Linked DNA regions of Homo sapiens. The protein of the gene in region 2 interacts with the protein of the main gene of each other region in a pairwise test. Each region holds a gene or a part of one and is shown on either strand. Other genes may lie near its edges. The genes, in order: CCDC125, C21orf58 and KLHL20.

What was found.
Region 1: the proteins of C21orf58 (region 2) and CCDC125 interact in a two-hybrid assay, tested with the Homo sapiens proteins (one large-scale study listed by BioGRID).
Region 3: the proteins of C21orf58 (region 2) and KLHL20 interact in a two-hybrid assay, tested with the Homo sapiens proteins (one large-scale study listed by BioGRID).

The regions. Positions count from the first base shown.
Region 1 is NC_000005.10:69,326,211-69,329,862, forward strand, and holds part of CCDC125 (coiled-coil domain-containing protein 125), read right to left. Parts: intron 1-3,652. UniProt on the Homo sapiens protein: May be involved in the regulation of cell migration.
Region 2 is NC_000021.9:46,317,347-46,320,998, reverse strand, and holds part of C21orf58 (uncharacterized protein C21orf58), read left to right. Parts: intron 1-173; exon of another isoform or gene 174-343; coding exon of another isoform or gene 344-362; intron 363-2,037; exon of another isoform or gene 2,038-2,214; intron 2,215-2,778; coding exon 2,779-2,987; intron 2,988-3,194; exon of another isoform or gene 3,195-3,333; coding exon of another isoform or gene 3,334-3,367; intron 3,368-3,650; coding exon of another isoform or gene 3,651-3,652.
Region 3 is NC_000001.11:173,752,869-173,756,520, reverse strand, and holds part of KLHL20 (kelch-like protein 20), read right to left. Parts: intron 3,309-3,652; coding exon 3,214-3,308; intron 599-3,213; coding exon 483-598; intron 1-482. UniProt on the Homo sapiens protein: Substrate-specific adapter of a BCR (BTB-CUL3-RBX1) E3 ubiquitin-protein ligase complex involved in interferon response and anterograde Golgi to endosome transport.

The DNA.
Region 1 (3,652 bases), on a different chromosome or scaffold from region 2:
AATTTCAATGAAATTAACATCAGAGTATACCAAGTTTCTATTATTTATGACTTCAAATAGAACTTAAAGTAAAAGTCTAAAATATCTAGTTTGAGCAACATCTAACAGATTCTGGATCCACTTTTTCCCAGATTTTTATAAAATCATCTTGGTTCTTTTACAAGATTATTTCCTTAAAAAGGAGATTTACCTATTTTGTCAAGGTAGATAAGAAGATATTTATTGAATCAAAGAATAATCCCTTGAGAGGCTGTGTTTTACCTCTAGTGCAGTAGACTCCTGCTTGTTAAGGGCAACCTCTGGCCTGTGTTAAGAAGGGTGTGGTCAGGATTAGGCAGGCAGCAGAGAAGAAAATGGAATTGGTCAATATAAGGGGGAAAAGCTGTAAAAGGAAAGAGTAAGCAATTGTAGAGTTAGCTAAGAATATTTTTCAATGCACCACATAAATTCAGGCATCATGGGTACGCCTTCCTGCTATTCAGAGTTGAATATAATGAGGTTTTGTTGTTGTTTTGTTTGTTTTTTATCCCTGCCTACTGTTTCTTAAACTTAACTTCAGGCTGGGAATGGTGGCTCATGTCTGTAATCCCTGAACTTTGTGAGGCCAAAGAAGGAGGACTGCTTGAGCCTAGTAGTTCAGACCAGCCTGGGCAACACAGTGAGACCTCATGTCTACAAAAAAAGGAAAAAAAGAAAACTGCTGGGCATGGTGGTGCACACCTGTAGTCCCAAGCTACACGGGAGCCTGAGGTGGGAAGTCAAGGCTGCAGTGAGCTGTGATCACGCCACTGCACTCTAGTCTGGTCAACAGAGCAAGACCCTGTCTCTAAAAATAAATAAAATAAAATGTAACTTCAGGGACTGCTGACTGTATATTCTCCCACTTTTTTTTTTTTTTTTTTGAGACAGCGTCTTGCTCTGTCGCCCAGGCTGGAGTGCCCTGGCGAGATCTCGGCTCACTGCAAGCTCCGCCTCCCGGGTTCATGCCAGTCTCCTGCCTCAGCCTCCTGAGCGGTTGGGACTACAGGTGCCCGCCACCACGCCCGGCTAATTTTTTGTATTTTTAGTAGAGATGGGGTTTCACCGCGTTAGCCAGGATGGTCTCGATCTCCTGACCTCATGATCTGCCTGCCTCGGTCTCCCAAAGTGCTGGGATTACAGGCATGAGCCACCCCGCCTGGCCTATTCTCCCACTTTTTATATGCTGATAGTAAGGTAACATGAAATACCATACAAATTAAACTTCACTTTTGAAACACATTACTTCCAAGAAAGTGAAAATATTTGAAGTCACTAAACTATCCAACCAGTTTAATGTATTCAGGGTTGATGACCAGGGAAGCAGCAGGATGTGTTAACGGAGAAGGCACTGACTCGAGAGGTCTGGGTTCAAATCTCACTTCACCACTTGCCACTTTTTGATCTTGGGTAAGTCATTTAACTTCTTAGAGCCTGTTTTATTTCTTAACAGGGGTTTAAGCATAACTACTTTATTGGGACATTTTTGGGCACCACTGATATATTTGAAATCAACTATGGTAGCCAAATCAATGTTTATTGAATTTGAATACTATTTTCTTCAATTGTCAATTTAGGGGACTAGATTTTTGGTTCTTCAGAGCTCTAAAATTGTTTCTGTATCAGCATTTTCCAAAGTGTGCTCCATGGAACATGTTCTCCAGACTATTAGGTTTTGCTAGGAATAAAAGTGTCCTTTTGGTTTTATTGAGGGCTGGAGTGCAATGGCGCAATCTCAGCTCACTGCAACCTCCGCCTCCCAGGTTGTAGCAATTCTTGTGCCTCAGCCTCCCAGGTAACTGGCATTATAGGCACCTGCCACCATGCCCAGCTAATTTTTGTATTTTAGTAGAGACAAGGTTTCACCATGTTGGCCAGGTTAGTCTCAAACTCCTGACCTCAGGCCATCCGCTCACCTCTGTCTGCCAAAGTGCTGGGATTATAGGCGTGAGCCACCAAGCCTGGACTTTTTTTGTTTTAATTTTTTAAATTAAAATGAGTCTGTATTTATGCCTGTTTTATGTTCAATGCATTCAGCAATTTACTCTACCATTTAATTTCTAATTGGACAAAATTAGAAAATAATAAAATATGTTGAACAATAAAGAAATAGTTAAATCTTGGTTTAACAACTTTATAAAATACTATGTAATTAAACAAAATTAATTAAATAAGTATTAGAGTTATAGTGTATTTAACATAGTTTAAGAATAATCTCCAGCCTGGGCAACAAGAGTGAAACCCCATCTCAAAAAATAAAAATAAAATAAAAATAAAAATAAAAATACTATGTAGTATAGACTAGGCAGCAACATGATAAATGCTCACATATACAAGTGTAAAACATAAAAAGCAGAATTCAAAGTTGTCTGTACTAGAACAAAGATTAGAAGAAAAACAAAAGATAAAAATAAATTAGTAGGATTAGAGTATTTTTCCATATACCATTTTTATAATATTGTATTTTAACAGTACTACAAAATCTAAGAATATCTACAGCTGATTCTGTACTATATGGTAATCTTGAATAGATAAACACAGAGGTTCCTTCATACTTTATACGTTTGACTTTTTTTTTTTTTTGAGATGGAGTCTCGCTTTGTCACCCAGGCTGGAGTGCAGTGGCGCCATCTCACCTCACTGCCAGCTCCGCCTCCTGGGTTCACACCATTCTCCTGCCTCAGCCTCCTGAGTAGCTGGGACTACAGGTGTCCGCCACCACGCCCGGCTAATTTTTTGTATTTTTAGTAGAGATGGAGTTTCACCGTGTTAAGCAGGATGGTCTCAATCTCCTGACCTCATGATCCGCTGGCCTCGGCCTCCCAAAGTGCTGGGATTAGAGGCGTGAGCCACCACGCCCGGCCTACCTTTGACTTTTAAAAGACGACTTGAACCAACATATCAATATATGCTGTCTAAAATAGATGTGTCAACGTTTAGGATTAAAGTATTTATTTTTATATGGACAGAGTCTCAGTCTGTTGACCAGGCTGGAGTGCAGTGACAGCTCACTGCAGCCTCGACCTCTGGGCTCAAGTGACCCTCCCATCTCAGCCTCCCGAGTAGCTGGGACTACAGGCATGTGCCACCACACCTGGCTAATTTTTTTGTTCTTGTAGAAGCTAATTTTTGTATTTTTTGTAGAGACGAGGTCTCCTTATATTGCCCAGGCTGGTCTCAAACTCCTGGGCTCAAGCAATCCTTCTGCCTCGGCCTCCCAAAGTGCTGAGATTACAGGTGTGAGCCACCATGCCCAGCCAGGATTCAAGTCTTTTTTTTTTTTTTTTTTTTTGAGACGGAATTTTGCTCTTGTCACCAAGGCTGGAGTGCAATGGCGTGATCACGGCTCACTGCAACCTCTGCCTCCTGGGTCAAGTGATTCTCCCACCTCAGCCTCCTGAGTAGCTGGGATTACAGGTGCCTGCCACCACACCCAGCTAATTTTTGTATTTTTAGTAGAGATGGGATTTCACCATGTTAGCCAGGCTGGTCTCGGACTCCTGACCTCAGATGATCCACCTGTCTCGGCCTCCCAAAGTGCTGGGATTACAGGCATGAGCCACCGAGCCCAGCTCGGATGTATTTTTTTCTATTCCAGCCCAGGCATACGTGACTTGCCCCAAATACAATGGTA
Region 2 (3,652 bases):
TGTATACTACTAGAGATCCCGAGGAGGCAATTCTTAGTGCTTCCCATTCACTTGGCAGTCACAGCTGTGGGCACACAGGCTCAAGTCTCTCCTTAAGTCAGTCAGTATTACAAACCATACATAATAGTATACTTGACCACTGCATAAATGTTATAAACATTCCACATCAAGAGAAAGAGGAGAGGAAAAAAAGTTAACCAGTTCAACGAAAAGGAGAATCTGGCAAGGAAGCATCTCTGATGTGGGCAGAGCCTGCAGCAGCAGATGTGGAGGGCTTCTCACAAGTGACAGCAAGACTGTCTGTAAAACGGCCACTTTGACCTGGTGGTGTTCTGCTCTTTTCATGGCCATAGAGTACTCTGGTAAGGACTGATAGTAAGAGTGTCTTGTTTATGTCTTTATCTGGGTGGGTGCAGTATCTACTGATGAGGAAACATCTGGTCCCTGTTGGCCTGATACCCTTTTTTTTTTTTTTTTTTTTTTTTTGAGGTGGAGTTACACTCTTGTTGCCCAGGATGGAGTGCAGTAGTGGTGCCACCTTGGCTCACTGCAACTTCCGCCTGCCTGGCCCTATCTTATAATTTAAAAGGCATCAGGGGCCAGGTGCTATGGCTCACACCTCTAATCCTAGCACTTTGGGAGGCCAAGACGGCAGATCACTTGAGGTCAGGAGTTCGAGACCAGTCTGGCCAACATGGTGAAACCCCATCTCTACCAAAAATACAAAGATTAACTGGGCGTGGTGGCGTGCACCTGTACTCCCAGCTACTCGGGAGGCTGAGGCAGGAGAATCACTTGAACCCGGGAGGCGGAGGTTGCAGTGAGCTGAGATGGCTCCACCTCTGCACTCCAGCCTGGGCAACGAGCAAAACTCCATCTCAAAAAAAAATACATAAGATGGAGTCCTTTTCTCAGATGAGGTCACTTATATCAAGGGTGCTCTATACAGTTGCTTAACTAAATTAACCTGGTTTTTGTTCTGTGCACACTCAGAGCTGTTTAAATGTCTCCCAAGACTGTCACTGTTAATGACTGTGGACAAGAGCCAGGTTCTTTTATTATCTTGTTTATTTATTTTTTTATTTTTTTTATTTTTTTTCCAGACGGAGGTTTTGCTCTTGTTGCCCAGGCTGGAGTGCTGTGGCGCAATCTTGGGTCACTGCAAACTCTGCCTTCCGATTTCAAGCAATTCTCCTGCCTCAGCCTCCCGAGTAGCTGGGATTACAGGCGCCTACCACGACGCCTGGCTAATTTTTTGTATTTTTAGTAGAGACGGGGTTTCACCATGTTGGCCAGGTTGTCTCGACCTCCTGACCTCGTGATCTGCCTGCCTCAGCCTCCCTAAGTGCTGGGATTACAGGCATGAGCCACCGCACCTGGCCCTTTTTTATTATTTTTTATAGAGATGGGGTCTTGTTGTGTTGTGCCGGCTGGTCTCCAACTCGTGGACTCAAGTGATCCTTCTGCCTTGGCCTCCCAAAGCACTGAGATTACAGGCGTGAGCCAACGCCCAATGGCACTGGGATCTTAAACATGGGGCCAGAGTCTGCTCATGTCCAGCAGCACCAGCGAGGACCCCTGACTGCCATCTGGGAATGTGTGGCACCAGGCAGGTCATGTGACCCTAGCCCACACCCTCCACAGATCTGGAGGGAGGGTAAGGCCTGGTTTCATGCTGACTTCATTTCTGGTTGGATGGCCTCCAGGGTAAGGTGAGTTGAACTCTACGTCAGGAGTAATCCAGCCCCTCCAGGGCCAGCAGGAGTAAGGTGCGCCCCTCCAAGGATCTCCATGAGCTGCCTCTGTGAGCCTGACCTCCTACGGGCTAGCCAGCCTTCACCCAATCACTCACTGGTCCAGCTTCAGGGTCCCTACATGGATGTGGGTTGGAAGACAGGACAGGCACACAACCATAGATACTGATGGACATGGGCCATTTACAGAACTGAGGGCAAGAGAGCAATTTTGGCCACTGAGGCAAGTTCCTGGGTTAGCTGCACCGAGGAGGGTGCTGACCTCTGCCCCTCGGGTCCACAGGTCTGGGCCCCTGCTGCTGACATCCCCCACATGTCAGTCTGCCTGCTAGTGGGATTGACTAACTCATCAACGTGGAGTTTAATGCCCAACCAAGTGCAGACCACGCTCCTGTTTTGCGTCACCCTCTGCGAAGCTTCCTGCAAACTTGACTCCCTGCCCAGTGCCCCCAGCCCCAAGGTGGGACATATCCCCTGGGCACCCCCTCTGGTCCTGCTAAAGCCCAGCCCCTCTGCAGGTCACAACCCCTCCTCTGTCCTACCCCTTCTGCTGCCTGCAATTTCCTGAACTCCTTGGTAGGCAGTCTCCTCACCCTGTCCTCCCAGTGTCTCCCCACCCTGTCTTCCCTGCTTGCTCTGAGGGTCCCTAGGAGGGAGGTATTAACACCCTGGAGGCAGTACACAGGTGGGGCGCCCTCCCCTGACACACAGGTTCTTCTGGACTGGGTCCTGAGGCTGGTGGTGCATAGGGGGTCACGACTGCCCTTCCCCCAGGTCTGAGGGTTCTGCCCCTCTGCCTCAGCTGCTGCCCACTTTTTTGCCTTCCCATGAAGCCCAGCTGGCCACACCTGGGGATGAGTGTTTACCGGTAGCCTGAGGACGCACAGTGGAAACCTGGCAACCTGGGGCCTCCCTGTGTCTGGCAGCCTGGCAACTGTCACGCGGCGCCCAGCGCTGGCTTCTGGGGCACTGCAGTCCAGGGAGGGTGTGGCTATCTTCCCACAGGGCTCTTCTCTTCCCTCAGGCTGGTCTCCAGGAGGTAAGGCCCGCCCTGCAGGCAACACCGGTGCTTGGGCTCCTGCTGAGCAGTTCTTTCCTGCGAGTAACAGAACCAGGGAGGGAGGTGGGCTGTGGCCTCCCCTGCCCCTACAGTCGTCTCCTGCAGCTCCCACCATGCTGGACTCATCAGCAGCAGAGCAAGTGACCCGACTGACGCTGAAGCTCTTGGGACAGGTGAGGCAGAGCCCGGGATGCTCCTGTTTTTAACAACTCGCAGGCTGTGGCGTTGGAGGGACTCTTCGAGACAGCCCTGCAGGTGCAGAATGCAGGGCCCCAAGGGCTAGGCCTGGGGCTGGCAGCCCAGCGGACCCATCCTCAGACTTAGTCTTCACATTCTCTGAGGGTCTGGGTGGCCCATGACCGACCTGCCTGTCCTCGCAGGCCACTGAGCACAGGGTCTGGGGAGCCTCGGTGCCTGGGGGCACCTCTGCACCCCCTGCCTGCATTGTTCCCTCTCCTGCTGCCTGAGGGACCTGCTGCCCACCTTTCGCCAGCCCTGCATCCTGGCCCACAGGCCGCCATGAGAGGGACTCACCCCTGGACACACCCAGCAGGTAGCTGCTCAGCTCAGGGTTCAGGTGGGGGGTGATCTAGGCATGCACTGGCTGGGAAGCCTGGAGGCCTCACCAGTGAGGTGTCTCCCAGGGTTGCTCTTCAGAAATCTGCCTGAAGGGACCACTCAGAGCATCCGCCCCTAGACTTGTGGATGGAACACATGAATTTGCTAGAGGTCAGGCTTACAGAGGCAGCTCAGGGAGATCCTCGGAGGGGCTTGACTCCCGCCTGTTGGCCCTGGAGAGGCTGGGTTACTCCTGACGTACCATTCTTTTCACTCAGAA
Region 3 (3,652 bases), on a different chromosome or scaffold from region 2:
CTTGTTCTGTTCCCCAGGCTGGAGTACAGTGGTGCAATCACAGCTCACTGCAGCCTTGACCTCCTAGGCTCAAGCCATCCTCCTGTCTCAGCCTCCCAAGTAGCTGGGACTACAGACATGCACTACCACACTCAGCCAATTGTTTTTCTTATTTTTTGTAAAGATGGGGCCTCCCTATATTGCCCAGGCTGGTCTCAAACGCCTGGCCTCCAGAAAGCTGTATAGGCATGAGCCACTGTGACCAGCCAACATTTTTGGATTTATATAAAAATAGATATTAAAGGTGTTGAATGAGAAAAAAGAATAGAGCACTCTTTTGGAGTATATCAGTGTGGAATCATGGGTTATGAGTCAAGCTATATGCTGACTTATTATTTGTGTCTTATGACAGTAAATATCATAATTGTCCAAAGGATTTTTCAAATGACAGTTTCTCACCTGGGAAAATACTCAATTTACTAACAGTATATTAAGATCCAAACCTGCAAAGAGTACTTCCCCACATCGGATAGGTTTCCGTGGTCTCGTCCTTGGTCCTTGCATTAGTGGTCGTTCTTGCGGCAATAGGAGGTAGTTTTTAGCCTCATCTACCAAGTCTCTGTAGAAAAAATTCTGCCTTTATTCCAAATATCTAAATTACATTGTTAGTTAAGTCCCAATGTAGTTTAGGAATATATAGGTTGGCAAAGGGAAGCAAGCATAAATCAAACCAAATCATGAATGCCAGCCAATATTAAAATTGGCACAAACATGAAACCAATAATGCCAGTCAAACTGAGTTGTGAATTGATTGGTATTTCCATCATGACTCATGTCTCACTGCAAATTTAGCCTAAAGCTCAACATGCTTACAGCCAACAATAACTTATAGAAAAGTAAAAATTACAATTTGATTACCACACTGCAGAGTTACTACTTTTTAATAAATTTTATTAGATTCTGCAAGATATTAGCAAGGTAGCACATCAGCCAGGGCAATAGTTATTTGCTAGATTAAAGTAATAAAACTGGGTCAAAAATCGGATTGCTGAAAAGAAACACTGTACTGCCACAAATTTGCTATCTGGTAACATATGAATGGTTTACTCTCAACAAGTCTACCGAGACATATTTCCTGTCTTGTTAAGACACTTTAAGAGAAGAGTCTAGTAATTACACATGTAATGACTTTGCAGTGGCTCACGCCTGTAATCCCAGCACTTTGGGAGGCTGAGGGGCGGTGGATCATGAGGTCAAGAGATTGAGACCATCCTGGCCAATATGGTGAAACCCCGTCTCTACTAAAAATACAAAAAGTAGCTGGGTGTGGTGGTACGCGCCTGTAGTCCCAGCTACTCAGGAGGCTGAAGCAGGAGAATCGGTTGAACTTGGGAGGCAGAGGTTGCAGTGAGTCGAGATTGCACCACTGCACTCCAGCCTGGCAACAGAGCGAGACTCCGTCTCAAAAAAAAAAAAAAAAAAGACAAAGACTTTGATCTCCTAATAGCTTGTTAGGTCATTTGAGGGTTCCTACAAATAATACTATAGAGCTATAATATTGAGCAAACCAACACAAAATTAATGGTAGTAACAACACTTACAGCTATGTGCTAGTCCTGGTTTTAAGTGCTTAATAGATATAAACTCATTTAATCTTCACAACAGCCTTATGGAATAGGCACTATTATCATCCTCACTTTATAGAGGAAGAAACTGCAGCAAAAAGAAGTTAGGATATCAGGAAGGGTCTTCTTTTAAATATGACTTCATAAGTACTTTTACTTTCTGCATCAGAATCAGTACAATACAATCTGATTTACTTTTAATGGAGGAGGGCATCTATGTATTATTTCTTCAGATTTCAGCATGTATAATGTACATGGTTTTCCTTTTTGCTACTGCAAATATTTAGGAGAATTAATTGCCATTTGTCTGTGTGTTTTTTTTTTTTTTTTTTGAGACTGAGTTTCACTTTTGTTGCCCAGGCTGGAGAGCAATGGTGTGATCTTGGCTCACCGCAACCTCCACCTCCCAGGTTCAAGCAATTCTCCTGCCTCAGCCTCCTGAATAGCTGGGATTACAGGCATGCACCACCATGTCCAGCTAATTTTTGTATTTTTAGTACAGATGCAGTTTCTCCATGTTGAGGCTGGTCTCGAACTCCTGACCTCAGGTGATACACCCACCTCGGCCTCCCAAAGTGCTGGGATTACAGGCGTGAGCCACTGCGCCCGGCCTGTCTGTGTTTTAAATATAGAATACAAAAATCTAGTTTAACTCTAGTCTATGGTAAACTGAAAAATGAAGAATGATTAATATAAAAAAGATACAATAAAATAAAATAGAAACATCTAAAATCCCCTCCAGCCTCTCCTGTTAAAAGAACAGGCTTTAGTTTATAGAAGAAATGCAAGTGAATCTACATGTCCTACCACCATTCTAGAATCAGGGATCATTCTAAATGTCTTTAATCACCAAGGGAGGTTCAAAGGTCAGTGTAGTTTACAAAGTTCTGAGTATGGATTTTCTCTTTCACTTTTATATTTGGGACATGCTGGGGAAAAATGGTTAACAATCCCAGATGATTTCAGATTTGAACCTAAATCTTACAATCTGTCAAATTGGGAATGTAATTTATTACATTTTGTATATACTTTAAAGACAGCCTAGTAAAATAGGTTGCTTTTTTCCCCCCCTTTGAAAAAGTAGTTAAGAGTTTCTTTCGTCAAAAAACCTCTGGAAACTGCTTCACCTAGTTTTAGTGAAAATCTTTCTACAGCTGTTTTAGAAAGTGGCAGATCTTCAACTCTGTCCACAATTTAGAAAGCAAGGCTGATTCTATTCCCCAACCAGACATATGTGATGGAAGGAAAAAATGTTCATTGACAGAGTCAACAGCATTATTTAATTATCTCAAGGAAAAAAAAAATATTAGCAGAGAATTGACTCTTTAAATTCAAGCCTGCATTAAAATCTTGGAAATCTACCTTTTTATTGCCACTTCTACACCAGTAAGCACCACACATAAAAACCTAATGGAATGAAACACTGGAAGTTCAGTTCTCTCTTCTTCTTTTCCTCCTCTTGACTCTAGCCCAGAAGAAAACCTTGTTAAATTAAAGCCCTGGTTTCAGCTCTGCAAAATACAATATTTAGGAAGCAATACAAATAAGGAAATTAGGAAAAAATAGGAATGCTTAGTTGTTGATTTTTCCCATCCAGGGTCACTCATACCTGCATTCTTCATCACTTTTGATGAGGGGATCAGAGCCTACTGTGCCGACCAGGAACTTGGGACTAAGCAAAGGCAAACGAACATGCTGCAGCACCTATGAGAAAATAAACACCATTATTTTAATTAATTAATTTTGAGATAGGTCTTACTCTGTTGCCTAGGCTGGAGTACAGTGGCATGATCGTAGGTCACTGCAGCCTCAATCTCCTGGGCTCAAGTGATGTGCCTACCTCAGCCTCCAGAGTAGCTGCAACTACAAGTGCATGCCACCATGCCCAACAAATTTTTGTATTTTTTTTTTTGTAGAAACGGGGAATCACCACGCTGCCCAGGCTGGTCTCAAACACCTGAGCTCAAGTGATCTGCCTGCCTTATCCTCCCAAGTGCTGGGATTATGGGCTTGTACCACTGCACCCAGCCAATAAACACTATTAAAGG